7 linked regions of the Homo sapiens genome follow. The protein of the gene in region 5 purifies or fractionates together with the protein of the main gene of each other region. This does not show direct contact. Each region holds a gene or a part of one and is shown on either strand. Other genes may lie near its edges.

Region 1 (3,500 bases), on a different chromosome or scaffold from region 5:
TGATTTAAAGACAAAACTAAGGAAGTAAGCGTGTGACACAAGACTGGCCAGGGGTTCAGGCGGGAGGGGGGTTCAGGAGGGAGGCGGATTCAGGCAGGTCCCAGTTGCTGGGGCCCCCACGCCCCCTGTCCTGCGTGGGCCAAGCGGGGAAGGAAGGAGGTGTTGGCAGCCCTGCGCGTGCACAGGCTCGGGGTAGAATGGGCTACCCACTCTCTCTGGCCAGCAAGGCCCCTGGACCCCCTGGGCACTCAGCCTCTGGGCCTGGCCACAGGACAGCACCAGCCACTGCCTCAATGCTCAGAGAAACTGAGGCAGAGACACGTGGGAGGGGGCAGGTCAGGCCCCAAGGATCCTGCAGTGATGACCTCACCTACTTTAGACACCCAGCCTAGGTGGGGACTAAAAGGGCATAAGGCCCAATGCCTGCAGAAGACCTGAGGCCAGGCCCCTGCAGTGCGGCTGAGGCTGTTCCTGAACTACGCTCACCTGCCTAAAACCTCACCACAGGTCCCCATAAGCCAGCCTCTGGAAACCTCCACCACCTTTCCTGAGGGGGGAAGGGCCACCTCCCACTCCAGGTTTTTCTGTGGCCCCAGGTGGCACTGCCCACCCCACCCTGCATGCAGGCGTCTGCACCAGGTGCCCCACCCCTGCTGTAGCACCCAGGTCCTCCCTGCCTCCTTTAGGGAGACCTTGAGGGAACAACCCCAGCCCCCTGGGTCTCCCCAGTTCTCCAACAACCCTGCTGGTGGCTGCACCCAGAGGGGCCCTTATCTGTCCCAGGGAGGGACCTGAGGCCCTGCGTGACTGCCTTACCCCACCCACTGGCCAACCGCTTCTTACAGCACAGCTCCCAACTGCTGAGCAAACAGCTGCTTCCCAGGGACCACTGGGGCCCAGGTTGGGCTGGGGTGGAAGCAAGGGCTCAGACTCTGGAGGACAGGGCAGGGGCTTCGAGGAGAAATCAGACTTGGAGAGGGCATCCCAGGTGGAGGCTATGGGGGTATGAGACCCTGGAGCCTGTTCAGCTCTGCCCGAATCTCACACTCAGGGGTACGAGACCCCAGAGCGTTCAGCCCTGCCCGCATCTCACACTCTGGGGTACGAGACCCTGGAGCATTCAGCCCTGTCCACATCTCACACTTAGGATGTCTCCTACTCTCTGGCCATCCCAACTACATTCCACTCCCATTTCACCTCCAAATGGGGGCACTGCAGCCCAGTCTTCCCTGGGCTCACCCAGGGCTGTGGGGAACTAGCAGCGCTTGGCAGACGGCTTCCACAAGGAGGTACCTTTGGTGGGGTGAGTGTCCAGGGTCTCCTCCCTCCGGGGCTGTGCCCCATCAATGTCAGTGTCCTCGTCTTGGGGAAATGGAGCCCCGGCACATCAGCTGGTTCTGCGAGACCCTCGGCTTCAATCCCACATGGACAGGAGAAGTAGAGCCTGTGGCTTCTGTTCCCCGGACAGAGTCAGGCTGCCCAAGGTGCCAGGGCCGGGTTGGCCTTCCAGCCCCACCCGAGGGACCCACCGCAGCCTCCTGGCCTCCCTTGGGATGGGAGAGCACTGAGGGCTGCAGCCCCTCGTTACACTCACCCTCCGGCCACAGGTGCCCCGTGCAGGCTCCCACCCAGTACTCACTGTCAAAGTCGGGGGGACCTGAGGCTCCCAAGGAATTTTTTTTTTTTTTTTGAGACAGAACTGGCCGGGCACGGTGGCTCACGCCTGTAATCCCAGCACTTTGGGAGGCCGAGGCGGGTGGATCACAAGGTCAGGAGTTCAAGACTAGCCTGACCAACATAGTGAAACCCTGTCTCTACTAAAAATACAAAAATTAGCCGGGCGTGGTGGCACACGCCTGTAGTCCCAACTACTCAGGCGGCTGAGGCAGGAGAATCGCTTGAACCCGGGAGGCAGAGGCTGCAGTGAGCCGAGATTGTGCCACTGCACTCCAGCCTGGGCAACAGAGCGAGACTCCATCTCAAAAAAAAAAAAAAAAGACTTGTAGGCTGGAGTGAAGCGCTACAAACATACCTCACTGCAGCCTGGACCTCCAGGGCTCAAGCAATCCTCCTACCTTAGCTTCCCAAAGTGCTGGGCCAATGACAGCGTTTGTTTTTGAGACGGGCTCTTGCTCTGTGGCCTAGGATAGGGTGCAGTGGCCTAATCATACCTCATGGCAGCCTCAAACTCCTGGGCTCAAGCCATGCTCCCACCTGAGCCGCTTGAGTAGCTGGGATACAGGCACACACCACCACACCCAGCTAATTTTTTACTTTTAATTTTTTAAAGGTTGGGGGGCAGGGGGCGGCCGGGTGCAGTGGCTCAAGCCTGTAATCCCAGCACTTTGGGAGGCCGAGGTGGGTGGATCACGAGGTCAGGAGATCAAGACCATCCTGGCTAACATGGTGAAACCCCGTCTCTACTAAAAATACAAAAAATTAGCCGGGCGTGGTGGCGGGTGCCTGTAGTCCCAGCTACTCGGGAGGCTGAGGCAGGAGAATCACTTGAACCCGGGAGACAGAGCTTGCAGTGAGCCGAGATCATGCCACTGTACTCCAGCCTGGGCAACAGAGCGAAACTCCGTCTCAAAAAAAAAAAAATTAGCCGGGCGCGGTGGCGGGCGCCTGTAGTCCCAGCTACTCAGGAGGCTGAGGCAGGAGAATGGCGTGAACCCAGGAGGCAGAGCTTCCAGTGAGCCGAGATCACACCACTGCATTCCGGCCTGGGTGACAGAGCAAGACTCCGCCTCAAAAAAAAAAAAAGAAAAGGTGGGGGGCGTCTCACTATGTTGACCAGGCTGGTCTTGAACTGCTGGCCTTAAGCGATCCTCCTGTCTAGGCCTCCCAAAGTGTTGGAATTACAGGAGTGAACCATCGTGCCTGGCTAATAATTCCTTTTAAAAAGCAGCTTACCCTTATTTTCACGTGTGGGCCTAATTTAGTTCACTTAAAAAAATCATTTATCTTCACCCCAGCCCTATGAGGCAGGCACTGCCGGTCCTGGTCTGTGGTAGAGGGGAGGGCAGAGGAGCCGTGAGGGTGACCAGGCGCTGTGGGTCGGTGCTGGGTCCAGTCAGACCAGGACTCCTGGCCAGTCACGGCACCTTGACCCCGGCAGTCCTCGCCCTGGGCGGTGAGCACCACACACAGGGCTTACGCGAGCACACACGCATATGCACGCACCGGCAGCCTTGGGCTGAGCCGGCTGTCAGCCTCTGCCCTGCTCCAGCTTGGACCAGGCTGGCTCCTTGCAGGACCAGGAGGGTGTCCGGCGACTGGACACGGAGACCAAGCCTCCCTCAGCCCCGCCTGGGTTTGAAGGCTGCTGCACTCGACCCCAGACCCCAGAGCTGAAGGTTTACCTGTGCTCAGCCCCTGAGCCCCCGCCTCCCGCTGGTCCCTAAGCCCCCCCGGCAGGGCCGCAGAGCCACAGCTGCAGCGGCTCCTGGGAGGCTGGGAGCTCCTCAGAGGCCCACACAGCTCTAACTCCTACAAGCCCC
Region 2 (3,500 bases), about 180 Mb from region 5:
CCCGGATGGCATCCAGTATGATACTTCCTTCTTTGCTGAATAAGAACAGCATGGGGATCTTGATGTCATCTGTATCCTTTCCATCACCTGCCATCTGGAACAGAGGGGCAGTATCACTGCTGCTCCCCTCATTGTCATCTAGCCAGAAAATAAATACAGCAAACATCAAAATATCCAGCCATTAAAAAGATCTATCTACTAATTGTTACTGATTTTTTACAATGACAGAATTAATTTTATGCATCAAGAACCATAAAAACCAACATAATTTTTGGACCCATTAATTCTCATAGAAACGTATCCAAAGGAAATAATTCAAAAGTAGCGAAAAGCCCTATGCCCAAATAATTTTACTAGACTATTTATAATTGTAAACAACTGTACACCATTATAAGTAAATTATAATGACCTACTTGATAGGACACACAGAATAATAATACATTTAAAAAGTAGAATACAGAATTCTATGATTATGACTATAAAAATTTCATATGCTTATGGAAAAGCCTAGAAAGGAAAAAATCAATGACTCGGATTACAGTGATAGAACTATGAATGAATTTTATTGTTGAAAATTTCCACTACTGGCATGATTACATTGTTTTACCAAACTAAAAATGGACATTTCTTTTTTATATAATGCACACAAAGAATAGTTATGACTATAGTGCTTCTTCCTCTATAAGCTAAACTAAACAGTATTGCTATTTTGCATTGGTTAAATAATAGTAGTAGAACTATTAATAGTAGTAGTACCAGCAACATGCTGTTTTACTGAAGACGACAATCACGACCACCTCCAAATCGCATGCCAGTCTCCCAGAAGAAACTATCTGTCCTGTCTCAGGGTGCTCACTCTCATAGGACCTGCTAAGTGCAGAATGCATGACCCATCCTCTTGGTAATAATTGATTAGACAAAAGATGGCTACCTGACCCTGAGTCTCTCTGGGGGACCTGGAACTGGCACACAGAAAGACTGTTTCAGTTAGCAGGGGGTAATAGTCCAGTTGAATGACACAGACTTAGGGGCTGAGGCTGCAAACTAGAATGGCCATTTTGGAACTGAGGAACAAAGAGAGAGAAGGCTGGTGAGAAGCTGGAAAATGAAGCAGAATTGCAAAGAGAAGCAGGGAAGAAAAGTTCAGAAGGACCCAGAGGTAGAGATACAGAGAGAAAAGTGAAAAACATTCACTATCATGGATCCTGGTGATTTTTAGTTCCCACTTCTACCTCCTGGTGAATCCTAGTTGTATTTGTACTGTTTAATTCACTAAAAATAATCCATTTCTGTGTAGTGAAAAAACCTCCCTTCTTAAACCAACGTAATTATCTCCTGCAGCCACATGATTTCTAAGATAATTCGTATTTCTAACCCTTGCAACAAAAAACAGCTAATTCCTAATTTATTCATTTATATACAATTAAAACAAAAACAAAATGCTTTGTCAGAAACAAAAAACTCAGGAGAAAGAAGTCAACACAAGAAAGTTTCTCATTAAAAATTAAATTTTTGGCTGGGTGCGGTGGCTCATGGCTGTAATCCCAGCACTTTTGGAGGCCAAGGCAGACCACTTGAGGCCATGAGTTTGAGACCAACTTGGCCAACACAGCGAAACCCCTTCTCTACTAAAAATACAAAAATTAGCCAGGCTTGGTGGCACGTGCCTGTAATCCCAGCTACTCAGGAGGCTGAGGCATAAGACCTACTTAAACCTAGAGGTGGAGGTTGTAGTGAGCCAAGATCATGCCACTGCACTCTAGCCTGGGTGACAAAGCAAGACTCTGTCTCAAAAAAAAAAAAAAAAAAAAAAAAAAAAAAATTTCTGAGAGTAAGGATCATCATCTCTTATTTATTTATCCACAGAACCCAGTATACCATTTTCCAACTAATAGCTACCAAAAAAAACATTTGACGGGCCAGGCTTGGTGGCTCATGACTGTAATCCCAGCACTGTGGGAGGCCAAGGCAGGCAGAACACCTGAGGTCAGGCGTTCAAGACCAGCCTGGCCAACATGGAGAAACCCCATCTCTACTAAAAAGAAAAAAATATATATAAAAATTAGCCAGGCGTGGTGGCAGGCACCTGTAATCCCAGCTACTCGGGAGACTGAGGCAGGGAGAATTGCTTGAACCTGAGAGATGGAGGTTGCAGTGAGCCAAGATCACGCCACTGCATTCCAACCTGGGTGACAGAGCAAGACACCATCTCAAAACAAACAAAACAAAAATTGACAATTATTGCATACTATAGAAGATCATGAGAATTAGACTTCACTGAAAAATATAAAAAACCAAAATACTACACAAAGAAATATTTTTAAACATTAATGCATAAATTCTACACTTTATACTTTACATTTTCATTTTGAAGTCTTGGTAAGAACTGTTCAAAATGATAGTGATGGTTAATATAATAAATTCTGCAATAAAACTAATCTAAGTGTGGGAAATACCCAAGGATAAAGAGCATGATTTAAGTCAGGGGTCGGCAAATCTCTTCTGTAACTGGCTAGATGATGAATAAATATTTCAGGCTTTGTAGTTCTCTCCTGTAAGTACTCAACTCCATCACTGCAGTTCAAAGCAGTCATAGACCATACACAAACAAATTGGCATGACTGTGTCCCAATAAAACTTTTATTTACAAAAATGGGCAATGAGCTGGATTTGGCCTATAGTCTTGTAGTTTGCCAACTGCTGATTTAAGTCATTAAACAGGACTTCTCCTAATGTTTATTAATAAAATTTATGCATCCATTAAATCAACATAATAAGTGTTAATATTCTGTTTTACCTGAACTATTTTTTTTTATTTACCTTAACTATTGGGCGGCAGGGGAGGGGGGAATCCAAAATGGATTTCCCTGTGAGAGAAGCTGTACAAAAGAACTCACAATCAGCATATTGTGAGCCCAGGTCTTACAGTTCTTTCTGAATGTAAACTCCTATTTACTTTAAAACAGAAAAATTTATATTTCCCCTAATAGTCATGGCCTGTTTATCATGATATAAGTGATTGTCTATGAAAGATAAAAAAGCAAAACCCACTAGTTGATACATATAGGTAAGATGATTTAAAGGTGGTAACTTGTCATTTCGGTAGAAAAAGATCCAAGGGGATAAAGATCTGCTAGCAATACTGTAAACCCTGTTATAGTAGCACTTATCCTATGTCTGCTATTATGCCAAGAAATTTTATATATCTTTAAACCTTACAATCACCTAAAATATATTTATTATCACTTCCACTGGAGCTCAAAAATATTCTACTATCAAATAAAAAAAAATTATACTATTTAATCTACAGATTAAAAAACTGAAGCTAGGCCAAGGTTACACTGCAATTTTGTGGTAGAGCCAGGAACTGTACTCTCATGTGTCTGCCTCCAAAGCCTGCATCTTTGTGGAGTAATGGAAATTTTCAATGGCTCCCCACTGGACGTGGCACAGTGTAATTCTTGCCCTTCGGGGGTTATGGATCTCATGGGCACCTTTTC
Region 3 (3,014 bases), on a different chromosome or scaffold from region 5:
GTTTAAGTCAGATGATTTCAGCAACAAACTCAGTTTTCCAATTTCCCTGGAAAAGTCGGATCTGTGACCTTGGCCGGTCCCCCAACAGCGTCTTTCCGTGGGGGACACCGGGTGGAGCTGAGTGCAGCTGCCCCTTGGACAAGGTCCCCCCACCCCCGGTCCTCACAATAAGTCAGCTGTCCTGGGCTGGGGGACTCATGCTGTTTTCCCCACAGAACAATCAAGAGGTGACAGAAACAGCTTTTATTCTCTCGCTCGTGTGCTAAGGAGGGAGACATGGGTCAAACCAGAGAGGCTCACGTTCTCCAAGTCTGCCCACCCCGGGGCCACAGAGCCCTCCCGCTTGCTGGGATACGACAGACAGGCTTGGTTCATGCAAATGCTCGTTACCAGGGCCAGACCCAATCTCAGCATCTGGAATAAACAGCTGCTGTTATGTAGCAACAGCCGACCCCTGGGCTGCTGGGCTGTGGTGCCAGCGTGAGTGCCCACCGGGCTGGGAGGCCGCCACCGCAGGGCTGGGTCCTGGGTCCCCATCAGGGCCACCCCAGTTCCTGGTCAAGTGCAGCCTCGGTCTTGTGTGTGCCTGGTGCCTGGGGCTGGGGTTGACCCTCTCACACCCAACCTGGGGGCCACACTTGTTCCCCCACAGCCTCCCAGGCTGGCCCCTGGCTTTACGTGCAGAGAAGCTGAGCCCCAGGTGGGGTGGGGGTGTCATCCACAGTCAGCGAGCATCCAGACCCAGGGCTGCAGGGAACCCTGGACGGAGACAGGCGTGCGGCGTAGGGGTGGCCAGCAGCTGTGAGGACCAGCTTGGACCTAACAGCTCACGTAGGGGTGGCCGGCAGGCCCTGACCACACCTCGGTCTCCTGCAGCTGGTGGTCCTGGCCGTGGAGCATACGGCCTTGGCCCTAATGGAGATCAAGGTCTGCGACGGCCAAGAGCACGTGGTCACCGTCTCGCTGAGGGACGGTGAGGCCACCCTGGAGGTGGACGGCACCAGGGGCCAGAGCGAGGTGAGCGCCGCGCAGCTGCAGGAGAGGCTGGCCGTGCTCGAGAGGCACCTGCGGAGCCCCGTGCTCACCTTTGCTGGCGGCCTGCCAGGTAGGTGCTCCCTGCTCCGCTCAACCCGGGTGAAGAGCTCCAGGGAGGCCCAGCTTGGTCACCCCAGATCTAACCTGGACAGGCTGGGGTTTCTGGTAGTGAATGCGGAAGAGGACTTGTGTTTTAAGAGGAAGGAGAAGTCCAGGTGGGTCGTTAGTGGCTATTATGGTGTCTCGGTGCTGGTCAGGTCATTGGCTGAGACTGAGAAACACGTACGGGGGCCGGCATTGGCCTGAGTCAGGCCCCACGAACCTGCATCTTCAGGGAGCATTCGTCCACACCCATCAGACCAGCCCCGGGGGAGAGGGCTGGGCAGACCTCGGGCCAGGCTGCAGTTGGGACCCGCGGCTGTCACCGCAGCTGTTAGCAGCGAACAGAGTGACCGCCAGCCCCTCCCATGTCCAGCAGGGCGTCCTGCCGTGTCCCATGGGCTACACAGCACAGAGGCTGGGACCGGGGATGTCCTTGCCATGAGCTGGGAGGGTCAGCGGAAAGGCACGTGGGAGCCGGCAAGTCCTCGGCTGCCCGCAGGTTTTCACTTGCGGCAAACGGCAGGATTTCTCTCTTGGCTGCCAGACACAGACTCCACTTAGTTTTAATAAACAGAGCTTTGAAGAGGATGAGAGCGAGCCAGGAGGCCTGCAGCCTGAATGACTCACTGGGCACAGAAGAAGATCACGTTTAACCGATGGGACTGTCTGTGCTCCCAGCGGGGAAGGGAGGGCTGGCGTCTGCAGAGCCCAGGCTGGCAGATGCCTCCTGCTTGTCTGCCGGGTCTGCGGCCAAACGAACGGGGACCGAGAAGTTAGAGAAGAAAGGGAAACCCTGCCCTTTCGGAGGGAACCCGGGGCTGGCCACAAGCGCTGCCGGGGGTGGGGGGGCCAGGCGGGGCCGGCCACGTGGTGAGCTAAGATATGTTGTTCTCTCCCTGCGGCCCAGATGTGCCGGTGACTTCAGCGCCAGTCACCGCGTTCTACCGCGGCTGCATGACACTGGAGGTCAACCGGAGGCTGCTGGACCTGGACGAGGCGGCGTACAAGCACAGCGACATCACGGCCCACTCCTGCCCCCCCGTGGAGCCCGCCGCAGCCTAGGCCCCCACGGGACGCGGCAGGCTTCTCAGTCTCTGTCCGAGACAGCCGGGAGGAGCCTGGGGGCTCCTCACCACGTGGGGCCATGCTGAGAGCTGGGCTTTCCTCTGTGACCATCCCGGCCTGTAACATATCTGTAAATAGTGAGATGGACTTGGGGCCTCTGACGCCGCGCACTCAGCCGTGGGCCCGGGCGCGGGGAGGCCGGCGCAGCGCAGAGCGGGCTCGAAGAAAATAATTCTCTATTATTTTTATTACCAAGCGCTTCTTTCTGACTCTAAAATATGGAAAATAAAATATTTACAGAAAGCTTTGTAACACCGCGTGGCCGTCATCTGCTCCCCGCGGGGTTCTGCACACGTAGCAGCGTTTGGGATGAGCGGGGCTGCCAGGGCTCCAGGCCGCACCCTCAGCCGCTCCAAAGATCCCTCCCTCTTTTCTGCTCCCAGCCTGGTTGGGCAGCCACGGTCTGCTCCCCAGGAGCCTCTGACTCCTCTGGTAGTGGCGGCAGGGGCTGGAGCCTCAGTTTACTTGTTCTGTAAATGCGGAGAACGCCCTGCTCGGCCCCCACCACAGGCAGCCAGTCATTGCTGAGTGAGGAGGGCTTGGCACACAAATGCAGGCTGCTGGGGCAGCGGCCTCTGAGCCAACCTGGGAGGGACCCCGAGCTGGGACCGAGGGCCGGAAGACACCGAGGCAGCGCCTGCACCCCTGTGCCATTCCCGTCCCCACCCTCCTGCACAGATCCACTTGCTTCCGGGCCTCAAGTGTGTTCTGTTGAGAAAGGGAAACTGCTTTCTCTGTGTCGGTCTGGGGTA
Region 4 (3,500 bases), about 170 Mb from region 5:
AGCACTCTTCTCTACCTCCCTGCCAGGGAGCTCATCCAGTCCCACAGCTTGAGCTCTGATGCTACTAATGACTATAAAGCTAATCTCTCTATTCCCCACCTCTCCCTGGAACTCCAGACTCAACTGTGCACACCTCCATTGGGAGGTCTATTGACACAAAGCGGGCCATTGATTCCACCATCCCAACCCGAGCCCCTGACTCCTCAGCTTATGGGACCATCATCCACCAGAGGCTCAGGCCCCACAACCCTGGAGTCCACCCGAGTCCTGCTTCCCACATACCCTTCCTCCAATCTATCAGTAAGTCCCTCAGCTCTGCCTTTAACATATCCCCAAATCTGACCACTTCCTCCAGGGGCACACTGACAACCCTAGTCCAGGCCCAACCACCACTGCTGGGCGAGCATGCAGCTTGCTCCTCAGCTGCCCTGCCTCCCCCTGCCTGCAGTAGCCCATCCTCCACCTTTCTAAAGTGTTAACCAACTGTCACTTCCGTTAGCCTCTCCAGTGGCTTCTCAAAATGCCAACACCAACCTCCAAACCCTGCCCTCGCCAAGGCCTCTGAGCCCATGAGCGCTCACCTCCGCCCCCGGCCTGTCTCTGCAGCCTCACCTCCCTCCCTCCGGCCACAGCAGCCTTCTTTCAGTGCTGCCCACACACCAGGCTTGTCCTTTGCACCTGCTGGTCTCCAGCCTGTGCTATGGGCTGAATTATGTCCCCCCAAATTCCTATGTTGAAGCCCTAATCCCCAGCCTCTCAGAATGTGGCCGTATTTGGAGACAGGGTCTTTAAAGAGGTAATGAAGGTAAAATAAGGTCATTAGGGTGGGCCCTAATCCAATAGGACTGGTGTCCTTGCAGGAAGAGGAAATTTGGACATGGATTGGGAGAGGGACAACTGCACGGAGACACAAGGAGAAGACGACCACCGCCCAGCCAAGGAGAGGCTCGAAGAAACCAGCACAGACACCTCCACCTTGCACTTCAGCCTCCAGAACTCAGACAACAGACGTCTACTGGCTGAGCCCCAGCCTGACATTTGTGAGTGCAGCCCAAGGACACCAACACAGCCTGGGAGACTCTCTTCCCAGACGTCCCACACTGCCTTCTCCTCTCCACATGGGTCCCAGCACCGGGCCCTCCACAGGGAAGCCTTTCCCAGACCCCTCTCCAGACAGCACCCGCTCCGGCACTGCTTTGCTTTGTCTTCCTCAGCATTCGTCATCATGGCTGAAGCCATCCCTCTGTGTCTGTCTCCTGCCACTCAGATACTGGCCCTGTGGGGGCAGGGACCTGTCTCATATGCTGCTGTGTCCCCGGCACCTGCAGCGCCACATGGCATGGTGGAGATGCTCCATACACACTGGCTTCCCACACCACTGCCTGGCAGTTCCTCTGATTCACGGGGCTCCACACAGGCTGCTCCCTCTGCTGGGATGCTCCTCTCCTGGCGGAATCCCTACTCACCCATCACCCCTCAACTCACCCCGTAAGGCCTCGGGCCCCTTCCCAATGGCGTCGAGCCTGCCCTCTCTTCACCCCACATCTTTCTCTCCACCACGGCCCTAGCCCTGATGCACTGCAGGCCTCTCTGTCCCCCTGCCTCACACTAGAGGTCCACCAAGAGCGGGCACTGTCGCCCTTTTCACCCATGTATCTATCCTCCAAGCCAAGCCGCAGCCTGGTATAAACCTGGTTCCTCAATCAGTGTGGACTGAATTGGATGCGCATCCTTTCAGTCTTCAAAAGCAGGTGTGGGGCAGCGTGGCCGGAGAACATGGTGGTGCAGTTTGTGGACAATCCGAGGCAGCAGGGGAAACGTGTTTCCCCAACTTCCCCCAGGAAATTGTTTTTCAGTGGGAAGTGCAATAAAATTGCTCAAAGCACCTGCTATGTATCAGCTATGTAAACTGTAAAATACACGTTTTTTTCTTTGTTAAGAGTATAAAAAAATAGAATCACAATTTTTTCATGAAGACTGAAAGCAAAGCAAACTATAAGCCCGGAGAAAGACAGGGAGAAGCCTCAGCCCCAGAGCTCCCGGGGCCGAAAACAGGACTGGTTGAATTCCTAAAGTCTGCTCCCTCCTGGGATTGGTTCTATTCTGGCCGTGTGGGGCTACCTGCAGATAGAGCAATCCAGCCAGAGCCCCAAGGCTGACTCTCCCCATCTTCTGGCAGCTGGGAGCCAGTGGGGCAATTCAAGGGAGCTTCCCTGCCCCCTCTCCCCTTGGAGGGCCGAACAGAGCAGGGTTGGAGGCACAGTGGGGTGAACGGGTCCTGGACGTACCTGCTTCCTGTGAGTGGTCTACATTTTGCCGAGCTGCCTGCACAGTCAAGAAGTGGAAGAGGACCCACAGGGAGCAGGGAAAGCCCCGGAAATGCGGCTCACTCCCCTGGCAGCCAATCCAGTTCACCTTCTTGGCAAGAACGGCACCCTGAGGGACACATGAGTGTGAGTGCACATATGGAGAAGGAAAAGGATGGGAGAGGCAGAGACAGAAGCTTCTAGGAGACAGCCCTAAGACAAATGAGGTCCCTCAGTCTATCACCTCGAAGGTGGCATTTCCCTTTCACCAGTTCCACCCACTGAAGCAGCAGCAGACCTAAAAAGCTGTGACCCAGATCAAGCTGCATCCCGTTCCAGCCTCAACTTCCCCAGCTGTAACACAAGGGGGTTATCTCTGAGGTCCCTTCGAGATTTGACACCCTACAAGTCTACAGGGTTTTACACCTCTGCTGGCTGCAGTGACCCACTTTTGCAAATAGCAGCATGAGCAGGAGCCCAGAAGGTGCCCTGGAGAGGGCCAGGGAGGCCATGCTGAGCAGCACCACAAACTAAGAGGCAGCACAGGGTAGTTGTTAAAAACTCTGGGGTCTCACCAAGTTTTCATCCCAGCCCAAACACTTACTGGCTCCATGAACCCAGACAAGTTGCTTAACCTTTTCAAAGTACTGTTTCTTCATCTGCTAAATGGGGAGAATATCTACCTTCCACTAACATTATGAGGATTAAATGAGATGTGCGCATAGAGAGCTCAATCAATAGTCATTTATTGATTATTGTTAGGACCCAACGAAGATCACTGACTCCCTGGTGCAAACTGGCGAAGAAGGTCAGAAATGACAGGGTTAACCCCTTGCACTCTCATAAATACGGAGGATGGAGAGATCTTTATTTGCTTCCCAGACTCACCTCTTTCCTGTCGTCCAGGGCAGTTTTAAAGAAACTGTAGGGAATTTTATTTCTCTTCTGCCTCTTGAGCCATTCATTCACGGAGTGCAGGAAGTTCTGGACTAAGGGCCGGCCAGGGAAATACTGTGGGGAGGAACAAGCGGAAGCTGGAGAGTGAAAAGCAATTCCCCAAGTTCCCCGTCCTGCAGATGGTAGGAAGCTATGCAGAAGAAGGCGGGGGGCGGGGGGCGGGGGGCAGTGGGGAGGAGGTTGTGCAAAGTTCCAAAACCACCAGGAAAACATTCTAACTAAGACACAAATATGACT
Region 5 (3,500 bases):
ATATTGGCTATTTTTTTTCCCTCGGCACTTTGAAATTATGTTTCCACTCCCTTCTGACTTTCACTGTGGCTGTTAAATCAACTCTCTGTCTAATAATACTCTTTTCATGATAATCTGTCTTTTCTTTCTGGCTAATTTTTAAATAGTTTCTTTGTCTTTGATGATTTCAATGTGATGCGTTTACTGCAGGATGTTGTGTATACACACACACACATATCTACACACCCAGAGAGAGAGAGAGACAGAGAGAGAAACTAATTGGCATTCTTGAATATATGACTTGGTATCTCTTCCTGAAAATTGTCAGCCAATATTTTGTCAAATCATGCCTCTTCCCTACTCTGCCTCTCTTCTCCTTCTAGGATTTTGATTAGACATTTACTAGACCTTTCCAGTACACAATGTCTCTTCACTTCTTTTCATAGTTCCATCTCCTTTTCTCTGTGCTGCATTCTAGATAATGTTATTGGCTGTCTCCAATTTACTAATTCTCTCTCAAACTGTATCTAACATGCGTTAAACCCATTCATTGGGTTTTTGTTTTTGTTTTTTTGAGATGGAGTCTTGCCCTGTTGCCCAGGCTGGAGTGCAATGGCATGATCTCAGCTCACTGCAACATCCGCCTCCTGGGTTCAAGCGATTCTCCTGCCTCAGCCTCCTGAGTGGCTGGGATTATAGGTTCACACCACTATGCCCGGCTAATTTTTTGTATCTTTAGTAGAGACAGGGTTTCACCATGTTGGCCAGGCTGGTCTCGAACCCCTGACCTCGTGATCCACCCGCTTTGGCGTCCCAAAGTGCTGGGATTACAGGCTTGAGCCACCGTGCCCAGCAAACTTTTTTTTTTTTTGAGACAGGGTTTTGCTCTGTTGCCCAGGCTGGAGTGCAGTAGTGCAATCTTGGCTCACTGCAACCTCCACGTCCCAGGTTCAAGTGATTCTTCCACCTCAGCCTCTGGGGTAGCTGGGATTACAAGCGCCCCACCACCACGACTGGCTAATTTTTTGTACTTTTAGTAGAGACGGGGTTCCACCATGTTGGCCAGGCTGATCTCAAACTCCTGACCTCAGGTGATCCACCCACTTTGGCCTCCCAAAGTGCTGGGATTACAGGCATGAGACACCACAACTGGCCTGGATTATTAATTTTTGATACTATTTTTCCATTTCTAGAAATTCTATTTGAGTTTTTGTCCCAAGTCTGGATGTCCATTTTTATACTTTTTTGCTCTTTTCTCATATTTAAACCTTTTATTTCTTTATACATGTTAAACATTCTTATGTCATATTAATTGTCTGATAATTCCACTAACTGAAGTCTTTGTAGGTCTGATTCTGCTGGTTCTCATCTATAATGTCTTTTTTTCTCATATGTTTTGTATTTTTTTTTCTTAATTGAGCTAATTTCAAGTAACTTTATTTGTGAAAATTCTTCTAGGTCTGGATTTAAGGTCATTTTCCCAGAGATAATTTACCATTTGCTTTTGTCAGGTGTCTGGGGGCACTTCTAGCCTGACTGGCAACATTTTGGAGTGTGAGTGTCCTTGAGCAGGGGTCTTTTCCACCTTTTTCTAAGGAAATGAAAAGTTTAAGAAAAGGAGATGGCCGGGTGCAGTGGCTCACACCTGTAATCCCAGCACTTTGGGAGGCTGAGACAGGCAGACTGCTTGAACCTGGGAGTTTGAGACCTGCCTGGGCAACATAATAAAACCCTGTCCCTACTAAAAATAAAAACTAGCCGGGCGTGGTGGCACACTCCTGGAGTCCCAGCTACTCGGGAGGCTGAGGCAGGAGAATTGCTTGAACCTGGGAGGCGGAGGTTGCAGTGAGCTGAGATCGTGCCACTGCACTCCAGCCCAGGTGACAGAGCGAGACTCTGTCTCACAAAAAAAAAAAAAAAAAAAAGGTTGGCTAGACGAGGCACAGTAGCCCTGCACACAGAAAATACTGTAGGACCCCTTAGTTGTTGACGTTCGTTGAGATGCTGGGGAGAACCCTTGTTAACCAGGCAATCGAATGGGAAGACTTCGGCAAAGTGATACCATACATTACCTGTGTCCTGGAGAGCTTGACAAAATCTGCCAGCACAAACCAGTGGACGTTCTCAGTGCAGGGAGGCGTGGTGAGTGAGCCATGGTAGGTGTAGTAGTGCTGGAGGTTCCTGGGCAGCATGTCCTGAACGTCAAGGCCAGTCAGGGTTGTTCTTTGTCCTGACCAAGAAGACAGAAGGTAACAGAATGTCAGGGACCAGCGCTGCCCCTCGGGAGGACAGCTCAGGCCCAGGCCTCGCCAGGTTCCAATCTCTTGAGTTCAGCAGAACATAGAAGCTGATGATTAAGAAACAATTTCCCAGTTTACTTCTTCCTGGAAGGGATTGAGAGGAGAGACTTTGGGGATAGACGCACTCAGACACCTGCTCCTGGCTGAGTGCTCTTGGCCGGGTGCTCACCCTGCGGCCATTTTCTCATCTGTAGAAAGGGAATAATCAGCAGGATTGTTGTGAGGGTAAGAAGGAATAACGTCTGGAAAGCAGCTGGCATTGAACCACTACATAGGGAAGTACTCCTAAGTGTAACTGCTGCGGTCACCATTATCATGGCTAGGCAGAGGACACATTTTATGATCAATGAAAGAAATAAATATGGCCCCTGGAGACTTCTGGGTAAGTGCCCTTGAAGAAAGACCAAAATGCCTTGGTTTGGGCTCATTGAGAAGTGGGTAGACAACAGTTGTAAATGCAGAATCAGGCCAGGCGCAGTGGCTCACGCTTGTAATCTCAACACTCTGGGAGGCCAAGGCGGGAGGATTGCTTGGGGCCAAGAGTTCAAGACCAGCCTGGGCAACACAGGGAGGCCCCGTCTCTACAATAAGTTGTTTTTTTTATTATTTTTTTAAATAATAAATGCAGAATCAGAACCAAGCCAGGGTCCAGGTACAGGCATTTGGTCCTGAGCTCTTCCTGCCACAACCGCTGGAAACCAAGCCCAGCCACAGGTGGGGCGTAGGGTGGGGCCACTTCCACCAGGCCTGCAAAACTCCTGCAGCAGCCACACCTGCTCCTGCTCTAGAGAGGTCCTTGTTTCATTCATGTCAACAACACTGAGCCCCTGAGCTCAGCACAAGACTCTCAAGGCAACACAGGATTGAGTTGGATTTTGCTTCACTTTCCCTGAGCACTTCTGCGCTTCTTAAAGGCAGAGAACATAGTTTTGATACATACGTAGATAGGCCTGTTCAACCAAGGCCACAATGTCTCAGAGTGCATAAGCCCATGAGTAGGCAAAAGAGTTCTAAGTTTGATTATTATTGGAAGATTTCAAGATATAACCTCCAAAAGGGCTCTGTGGTAGAGATTTATTTTTGTAACTCTAATATATTTAAGTGAAAGTCAAGAATTCCAGAATCATGATGCAGCCACCACGGAAAATGGTATAATAGTTCCTCAAAAAATAAACATACGGCCAGGTATGGTGGCTCACACCTGTAATCCCAGCACTTTGG
Region 6 (3,500 bases), on a different chromosome or scaffold from region 5:
CCAGGCTGGAGGTCAGTGGCGCGATCTCGGCTCACCGCAACCTCTGCCTCCTGGGTTCAAGTGATTCTCCTGCCTCAACCTCCCGAGTAGCTGGGATTACGGGCATGCACCACCACATCCAGCTAATTTTGTATTTTTAGTAGAGACGAGGGTTCTCCATGTTGGTCAGGTTGGTCTCGAACTCCTGACCTCAGGTGATCTGCCTGCCTCAGCCTCCCAAAATGCTGGGATTACAGGCGTGAGCCACCACGCCTGGCCTGGTATGTGTGGGTTTCTGATGAGCCCAGTGGCTGGTGTGGGCAATGACTTTGTAGCCCCAGGATTCAGTGTTAGTGCCTGAGAGACAGTAATGTGCTGTTTTCATTTGTTCCTACATGCATGTATTCATTTATTTTATTTTATTTTATTTTATTTTATTTTGAGACGGGGTCTCACTCTGTCGCCCAGGCTGGCGTGAAGTGGTGCAATCTCGGCTCACTGCAACCTCCACCTCCCGAGTTCAAGCTCTTCTCCCGCCTCAGCCTCCCAAGTAGCTGGGACTACAGGCACACACCACCACACCCACCTAATGTTTACATTTTTAGTAGAGACAGGGTTTCTCTATATTGTTGTTCAGGCTGGTCTCAAACTCCTGACCTCAGGTGATCCACCCGCCTCAGCCTCCCAAAGTGCTGGGATTACAGGTGTGAGCCACCGCGCCCGGCCCATGTATTCATTTAGAGAGCATTCATTGAGAGCCTTCTGTATCTCAAGCGTTGTACTATGCAACAAGCACTGGGTGGTAGTTTGTGCTTTCAAGGGGTGGAGTAGATTTAACTTCTGGAGGAGTTGAGTCTGGCTGTGTTGGGAAAAAACTTGTCATGACAGGAACATTTTATTCCCATATCTAGGGAACTCTTGTCTGAGAACATTGACATGTCCTCCCTGCCAAGGTGGAAGCCCATTCTATCTCTTTTTTTCTTTTTGAGATGGGGTCTTGCCATGGTGCCCAGGCAGGCCTCGAACTCCTGGGCTTAAGCAATTCTCCTGCCTCAGCCTCCCAAGTAGTTGGGATTACAGGTGCACACCACCTCAGTGTGTCTTGCAACTTCATCCATCCAGAGTGCAGCCACAAACCAAGAAGTCACCAGGAAAGAGCAGAGAGTAGGGAGAGTAGATTCCATGAAGACTGTATACAAAAGCTTATTCTCTTTCTCTCTTTTTTTTTTTTTTAGACAGAGTCTCACTCTGTCGCCCAGTCTGGAGTGCAGTGGCACGATCTCATCTCACTGCAACCTCTGCCTCCTGGGTTCAAGCAATTCTCATGCCTCAGCCACCCAAGTAGCTGGGACTACAGGCGTGCACCACCATGCCTGGCTAGTTTTTGTATTTTTAATAGAGACGGGGTTTTGCCATGTTGCCCAGGCTGGTCTTGAACTCCTGGCCTCAAGTGATCCACCCACCTTGGCCTCCCTCAGTGCTGGGATTACAGGCATGAGCCACTGCATCCAGCCTGGAAAAGGTTGTTCTTGTTGCTCCTGGGGACCCAGTAGACTCTCGGTCCCAGTTTACTCTTACTTTACACATAGTTCCAACAATCCTGGGCAGCTAGTAACTAGCCTTGCTTAATAGATGAGAAGACAGGTGTCATTGCACAAGAAGAAAGAAACAAAAAGGCAAAGCCAGTTCAGCCATCAAATGAAATGGCAAATAGCTTCTCACTTTTTAGGCTCTAAGAGAGTCCTGGTGAATCCCAGGAAGAATACATGATGAGCACATGGTGAGCCGGGTTCTTTTTAAATTTTATTTTGTTTTTTTTTTTTTAAGACGCAGGGTCTTGCTCTGTTGACCAGGCTAGAGTGGAGTGGTGTGACCACAGCCCACTGTAGCCTCAACCTCCTTGGCCCAAGTGATCCTCCTACCTTAGCCTCTCAAATAGTTAGGACTACAGGTGTGTACCACTACATCCAGCTAATTTTTCTCTTTCTTTTTCTTTTTTTTGGTAGAGATGGGGGTCTCACTATGTTGCCCAGGCTGGTCTTGAACTCTTGGCCTTAAGTGATCCTCTTGCCTCAGCCTCCCAAGGTGCTGGGATTACAGGCATGAGCCACAGGGCCCAGCTAATTTTTGTATTTTTAGTAGAGACAGGGTTTCACAATATTGTTCAGGCTGGTCTCGAACTCCTGACCTCAAGTGATCCGCCTCAGCCTCCCAAGGTGCTGGGATTACAGGCATGAGTCACTGCACCCGGCCCACATTGTTTCTGTTCCTAATTTCTCTAGTAATTTCTATGAGAAAGACACTGATAGAGGCACTCACTCACTCAGGAGGGACGTGACACAGTCCGCTCTGAATGGCTGTCAGTTGCCAAATTTGGGAGACAGATGCAGCCGACACATGGTACAAAGTGCCAGATGTCAAGAGTCAAGTGGGCTTCCTGGGGGAGGTGGCATTTGAGATGGGCCTTGAAGGATGAGCGAGTGAAGACTGGAGGGTGGACACAGAAGAAAGTCATTGGTCATGCTGACAAGACCTGGTGGGTTTACCCTTATTTTACATGATTCTAACCATGTTTAAAAGAGGGGAAGTTTCTGGAAATGGGAACTAGGGTAAGTGTGTGGTTGATGCCTATGGTGGGTGCAGATAGGAGAAGGGAAGTGAGCTTGAAAAGGTTGTGATCTGACTGTAAAGGCTTCGAAAGCTGGGTTAAGGATTTTAGAATTTATTTATTCATTTATTTATTTATATTTTTTTCGAGACAGAGCCTCGCTCTGTCGCCCAGGCTGGAGTGCAGTGGTGCGATCTCAGCTCACTGCAACCCTCCCCTCCCAGGTTCAAGCAATTCTCCTACCTCAGCCTCCCAAGGAACTGGGTTAACAGGCGCGTGCTACCACGCCTGGCTAATTTTTGTATTTTTAGTAGAGACAGGATTTCACCATGTTGGCCAGGCTGGTCTCAAACTCCTGACCTCGTGATCTGCCTGCCTCGGCCTCCTAAAGTGCTGGGATTACAGGCGTCAGCCACCGTGCTGGACCTTATTTATTTATTTTTAGAGATAGAGTCTTGCTCTGTTGCCCAGGCTGGAGTGCAGTGACGCGATCACAGCTCACTGCAGCCTCAAACTCCTGTGCTCAGGCAATCCTCCCACCTCAGCCACCTGAGTCACTGGGACCACAGGCGTGTGCCACCATGCCCACATAATTTTTTTTGTTTATTTTTTGTAGTGACAGGGTCTCACTATATTGTCCAGGCCGGTCTTGAACTCCTGGGCTCATAAGATCTTCCTGCCTCAGCCTCCCAAACTGCTGGGATTACAGGCGTGAGCCACTGCACTTGGCCTAGAATTTAGTGAGCTGGTAATAGTGACTCATAGAAGAGGTTGTGCATGTTTAAATGGAAGACTTTAAAAATTTTTAATTGTGGTAAAATACACATAATATAAAATTTATCACTTTAGTCATTTATTTATTTATTTATTTATTTTTGAGATGGAGTCTCGCTCTCTGTCCCAGGCTGGAGTG
Region 7 (4,217 bases), on a different chromosome or scaffold from region 5:
TGAAATCTCGATCGATGACTCATAACCTCACATGAGTTTGCAACTCCAACTGCACCATCTGGCTGTCTGAAAGTCAAGTAGACAATATGGTTCAAAGCAGTTCACGCTGGGCGCGGTAATCCCAGCACTTTGGGAGGCTGAAATTGGGTGATCGCTGGAGGCCAGGAGTTCGAGACTAGCCTGGGCAACGTGGCAGAACCACGTCTCTACAAAAAATAAAAAAATTAGCCAGGTGTGGTGGTGTGCACCTGTCATCCCAGCCACTTGGGAGGCTGAGGTAGGAGGATCGCTTAAAGCCAGGAGTTCCAGACCAGACTGGGCAATATAGCGAGACCTCATCTCTATAAAAAACATTCTATTAACTATCCAGGAGCGGAGGCAGGCGTTTGTAGTCCCAGCTAGTCAGGAGGCTGAGGTGGGAGGATTGCTTGAGCCCAGGAGATGGAGGCTGGTCCACCCTGGGCAACAGAGAAGACACCCTGTCTCAAAAAAAAGGGAGCCAGGCATGGTGGCTCATGCCTGTAATCCCAGCACTTTAGGAGGCCAAGGCAGGCGGACTACGTGATGTCAGGAGTTTGAGACCAGCCTGGTTAATACGGTGAAACCCCATCTCTACTAAAATTACAAAAATTAGCTGGGCATGGTGGCACGTGCCTGTAGTCCCAGCTACTTGGGAGGCTGACGCAGGAGAATCACTTGAACCTGGGAGGCAGAGGTTGCAGTGAGCCAAGATCGCACCACTGCACTCCAGCCTGGGCGACGGAGTGAGACTCTGCCTCAAACAAACAAACAAATGAGCAATAGACAAAAGGTAAGTGCAGCTAGGCGACAAAAGGGAAGTAAGCGGAGGCTGGGACATGGTCAGGGACCTCGTGCGCAATGCTCAGGAGTATGGCCTCAATTCTAATTCTATTTTTTTTTTTTTTTTTGAGACGGAGTCTCACTCTGTCGCCCAAGCTGGACTGCAGTGGCATGATCTCCGCTCACTGCAAGCTCCGCCTCCGGGGTTCACACCATTCTCCTGCCTCAGCCTCCCGAGTAGCTGGGACTACAGGCGTCCACCACCACGCCTGGCTAATTTTTTTGTATTTTTATTAGAAACGGGGTTTCACCGTGTTAGCCAGGATGGTTTTGATCTCCTGACCTCGTGATCTGCCTGCCTCGGCCTCCCAAAGTGCTGGGATTACAGGCGTGAGCCACCGCTCCCGGCCAGTATGGCGTCAATTCTAAGGGCAACAAGGAGCTATGGGAGGGTGCTGAGCAGGAAAATTCAGCAAAGGTTCCCAGAGGGAGAGCCTGCCCTGGCTAAAAGGGGTCCAGTATGTTCTGGGCAGCTTGAGCTTGACACTGCAAGTCTTTCTGAAGACCAGGTGAACATATGGATGGGGGGAGTGGCAGGTGGGCAGGGAACAGATGGTAGGACCTTGAGTGCCCAGCTAGGGGCTGAGTCTTCCTTCTGCCAAGGATGGGCTGGCCATGGAAGGTGTCTGAGCAGAGGGCACAGTCAGATTTCCACATCAGAACAACCAAGGAGCCGGGGGCAGGGGGCCATGGCATGCAGAAGGGGTGAGTTTTAGAAAGTTCAGAACCAGTCAACTTACGGTGGGATCTTTCCCATCTCCACACCCTCTGTGCCCTCCTTACAATGGGTTCAGTCCCTCTTGCTACTCCATCTTACAAGGAGCTGTGAAGGTGTTGAGCCCTGCCCCGCTAGCCGGCGCTCACCTGCTCCCACGTGGTGCTGTTCCTGAGGTCTGCTCTGATAGAAGCCCCCAGCAATGCCTGTTTCATCCCAGAAGGACCCCCAACGGCTCGTTTGAGCAAGTCCCTCAGAGACACCGCAAAAACCCTCCAAGGATCCTTGCACAGGACACCAGAATCTGCCCCCCTAGCATGAATCCAGTGTCCCAGTCTCCAGAAGAGACCCCCCAAACAAGTCCTGGAATACACAGCAGCCTCCCGACACACTCCGAACAACTCCCAAACCCAAAGTCCCACACAGACCCCAAAATCTCAAACAGTGCCCCAGCTGTAAACGATCCCGAGGAAACTCACACCTTCAGAAACCCGGGAAGTCCTTTATAGAGCAGCTCGCTCATCCCTCAGAGAAAGCCCTAGATAGACCCAAAGTGTCTTGGCAACCCCCCAGAGACTATCTATTGGGTCGTCCCTGTGAGCCCCGGTGACCTACTGGAGAGCCCCCTGAAGTCTCTCACAGTTATCACGGCTCCAAAAAGACCCCCACACCGCCACGGATTTCCAGTCAGCCCCAGCTCCCTGGAATTTCCACCAGTTGCCCAAAGACCCCCAAATTGCCCCCCAAATCCCCTGAGATCATCTCCTAAGCAGCCTGCAACGCCCGAAGCACCTTAGAGGCTACTCATCTTCCTCGAGAAATCCTTAAAGTGTCCCCTGTAGCCCCCTCAGAGACCCCCAACTGGTCACCCTCTCAGGCCCCGCCCCCGCCCAGCCCTCGGCCCAGCCCCGCCCCCAACCTACAAAGCACCCTCAGCTCTCCGGACCCTCCAAGCCGTCCCCGCAACCCAGCCCTGCACCGTGCGCCCCCAGAGCCCTCAGCCCCGCCCCCAGCCCTGGACGGATCCCGGCAACACTCACAAGAGGTCTCGCCTCGCGGTCTTGCAGACGATGCGCAGGAAGCGCCAGCCGCCGCTGCCCACGTACACGCCGAGCGCCGCTGCCGCGCTCCAGGTCCACGGCAGCCCCAGCAGCCACAACAGCGCCAGCGAGACCACCGAGGCCGCGCCCGCACCCGGAGCCCGCATCCTGGGGAAGCAGAGAGAGCTGAGGCCGCGGGCCGCTCCAGCCCCGCCCCACGACCCGCTCCGCCCCACGACCGCCCCCGCCTCTACAGCGAGCCGCGCCCCCAGGCCTCGGCTCTGCGCCCCCCGCGAGTCCGGGAACGCGCTCCGAGTCAGACTCCGCCCCCAGGCCTGGGATTGGTCAACTCCTCAGGCCAGGCATCGCCCCTTTCCAGGCTTTTACACCCGCCCGCTAACTAGGAACCAGACCAGGGCCCCAGGCCTGGGATTGGCCAGGTCCTGGCCAGGCTCCGCCCCCGGACCCTGGGTCCGCTCTATTCCATATTTTTGAGCCCATCCTTCCCTGCCAATCTTACAACAGTCCCCGCCCCCAGAGCCAGCATGTCCACCTTGTCGGTCACTGTCAGGCCTCGCCACATGCCTTCATCTAGCCTCTATCCTCGATCCCCGAATTACCCTTCACGTCCTGTCCCCTTTCCTCCTGGTCCTGCCTCTACCCCGTGGCCTTTTCACCACTCACTGGGCCCCGCCCTTAGGTTATGCTTCTAGCCCAGCCCACAGGTACAAGCCCTCTCCCCGAGTCCCGCCCCTCTCAGCCAGGCCCCACCCCCTAGGTTAGACATATGCCTCCCCACCCCCCCGCAATAAGCACACGCCCCACCCTCCCGAAACTAGAGCCCTCCCCAATCCGTTCAAGCCCCACCCCAGTTCCGGGCCTAGCCCAAGTTCCCAGGCTCAGGTTCTATCCTGGCCACGGGCCCCGCCCTCAGGCTTTGGCTCGGTCGCCACCTCCTGGGTTTCACTCCGGCCCCCCTAGGACCTAGGCCCCGCCCCTCTTCCCTCCTGTCTACTTCGAAGCCCCTCAGCCCGCAGAGCCGAGGCCGGCCGTCTTCCAGAAGCCACGACCATAGAGAGGCAACCGGACCGGAGAGGCGACGGCCAAAGAGACATGGGTGCTAGAACGGCCCGCCAGGGTCGTCCGCTGTCTCCATGACAACCAAGCCTTGCCCCACCCCCTCTCCTTTTAGGAAACACACGTGTCCTGCAGCCTTGGGGCGTGGCTCGCAAGATATCAGGACCCGAGCCCTAGTTGGCGTGCAGGATCTCTACCCCGGGGGACCAAAAATATCCCAGTCCACACCCACGGCCCGCGCGGGCTGTATTCTTGCTCCAGCTTGTCCTAAATCCAAGCCCCAAAGCCTCTTTCGGTCTTAAAAACACGTTCCAGGGCCCGGGGGAGTGCTCAACTCACACCATTGGGGCCTCAGAAGTCTCTAACTGTAAACACCGCCGCGGTCTTAACACGTGTGATTCAAGGACACAGCTAATTCTTAATCCATGTCCCGAAGCCTTGTCGGTTAAGTCTCACCGTCACACCCCAGGATCCCAGGGAGGACAAAATCCACACGCCAGGTCCCCATCCTTCCTAGAAGCACC

The links.
Region 1: the proteins of CA6 (region 5) and IDUA purify together in Homo sapiens (affinity purification with mass spectrometry; one large-scale study listed by BioGRID and IntAct). This does not show direct contact.
Region 2: the proteins of CA6 (region 5) and EDEM3 purify together in Homo sapiens (affinity purification with mass spectrometry; one large-scale study listed by BioGRID and IntAct). This does not show direct contact.
Region 3: the proteins of CA6 (region 5) and GAS6 purify together in Homo sapiens (affinity purification with mass spectrometry; one large-scale study listed by BioGRID and IntAct). This does not show direct contact.
Region 4: the proteins of CA6 (region 5) and QSOX1 purify together in Homo sapiens (affinity purification with mass spectrometry; one large-scale study listed by BioGRID and IntAct). This does not show direct contact.
Region 6: the proteins of CA6 (region 5) and OLFM2 purify together in Homo sapiens (affinity purification with mass spectrometry; one large-scale study listed by BioGRID and IntAct). This does not show direct contact.
Region 7: the proteins of CA6 (region 5) and SLC27A1 purify together in Homo sapiens (affinity purification with mass spectrometry; one large-scale study listed by BioGRID and IntAct). This does not show direct contact.

The regions. Positions count from the first base shown.
Region 1 is NC_000004.12:993,544-997,043, reverse strand, and holds part of IDUA (alpha-L-iduronidase isoform a precursor), read right to left. Parts: intron 1-3,500.
Region 2 is NC_000001.11:184,702,859-184,706,358, forward strand, and holds part of EDEM3 (ER degradation-enhancing alpha-mannosidase-like protein 3 isoform 2 precursor), read right to left. Parts: intron 139-3,500; coding exon 1-138. UniProt on the Homo sapiens protein: Involved in endoplasmic reticulum-associated degradation (ERAD). Accelerates the glycoprotein ERAD by proteasomes, by catalyzing mannose trimming from Man8GlcNAc2 to Man7GlcNAc2 in the N-glycans.
Region 3 is NC_000013.11:113,820,049-113,823,062, reverse strand, and holds the end of GAS6 (growth arrest-specific protein 6 precursor), read left to right. Parts: intron 1-876; coding exon 877-1,105; intron 1,106-2,044; coding exon 2,045-2,199; 3' UTR 2,200-2,514; downstream 2,515-3,014. UniProt on the Homo sapiens protein: Ligand for tyrosine-protein kinase receptors AXL, TYRO3 and MER whose signaling is implicated in cell growth and survival, cell adhesion and cell migration.
Region 4 is NC_000001.11:180,189,369-180,192,868, reverse strand, and holds part of QSOX1 (sulfhydryl oxidase 1 isoform a precursor), read right to left. Parts: intron 3,318-3,500; coding exon 3,195-3,317; intron 2,437-3,194; coding exon 2,289-2,436; intron 1-2,288. UniProt on the Homo sapiens protein: Catalyzes the oxidation of sulfhydryl groups in peptide and protein thiols to disulfides with the reduction of oxygen to hydrogen peroxide. Plays a role in disulfide bond formation in a variety of extracellular proteins.
Region 5 is NC_000001.11:8,966,368-8,969,867, reverse strand, and holds part of CA6 (carbonic anhydrase 6 isoform 1 precursor), read right to left. Parts: intron 2,210-3,500; coding exon 2,052-2,209; intron 1-2,051. UniProt on the Homo sapiens protein: Reversible hydration of carbon dioxide. Its role in saliva is unknown.
Region 6 is NC_000019.10:9,926,516-9,930,015, reverse strand, and holds part of OLFM2 (noelin-2 isoform 2 precursor), read left to right. Parts: intron 1-3,500. UniProt on the Homo sapiens protein: Involved in transforming growth factor beta (TGF-beta)-induced smooth muscle differentiation.
Region 7 is NC_000019.10:17,469,107-17,473,323, reverse strand, and holds the start of SLC27A1 (long-chain fatty acid transport protein 1), read right to left. Parts: upstream 2,801-4,217; 5' UTR 2,784-2,800; coding exon 2,617-2,783; intron 1-2,616. UniProt on the Homo sapiens protein: Mediates the import of long-chain fatty acids (LCFA) into the cell by facilitating their transport at the plasma membrane.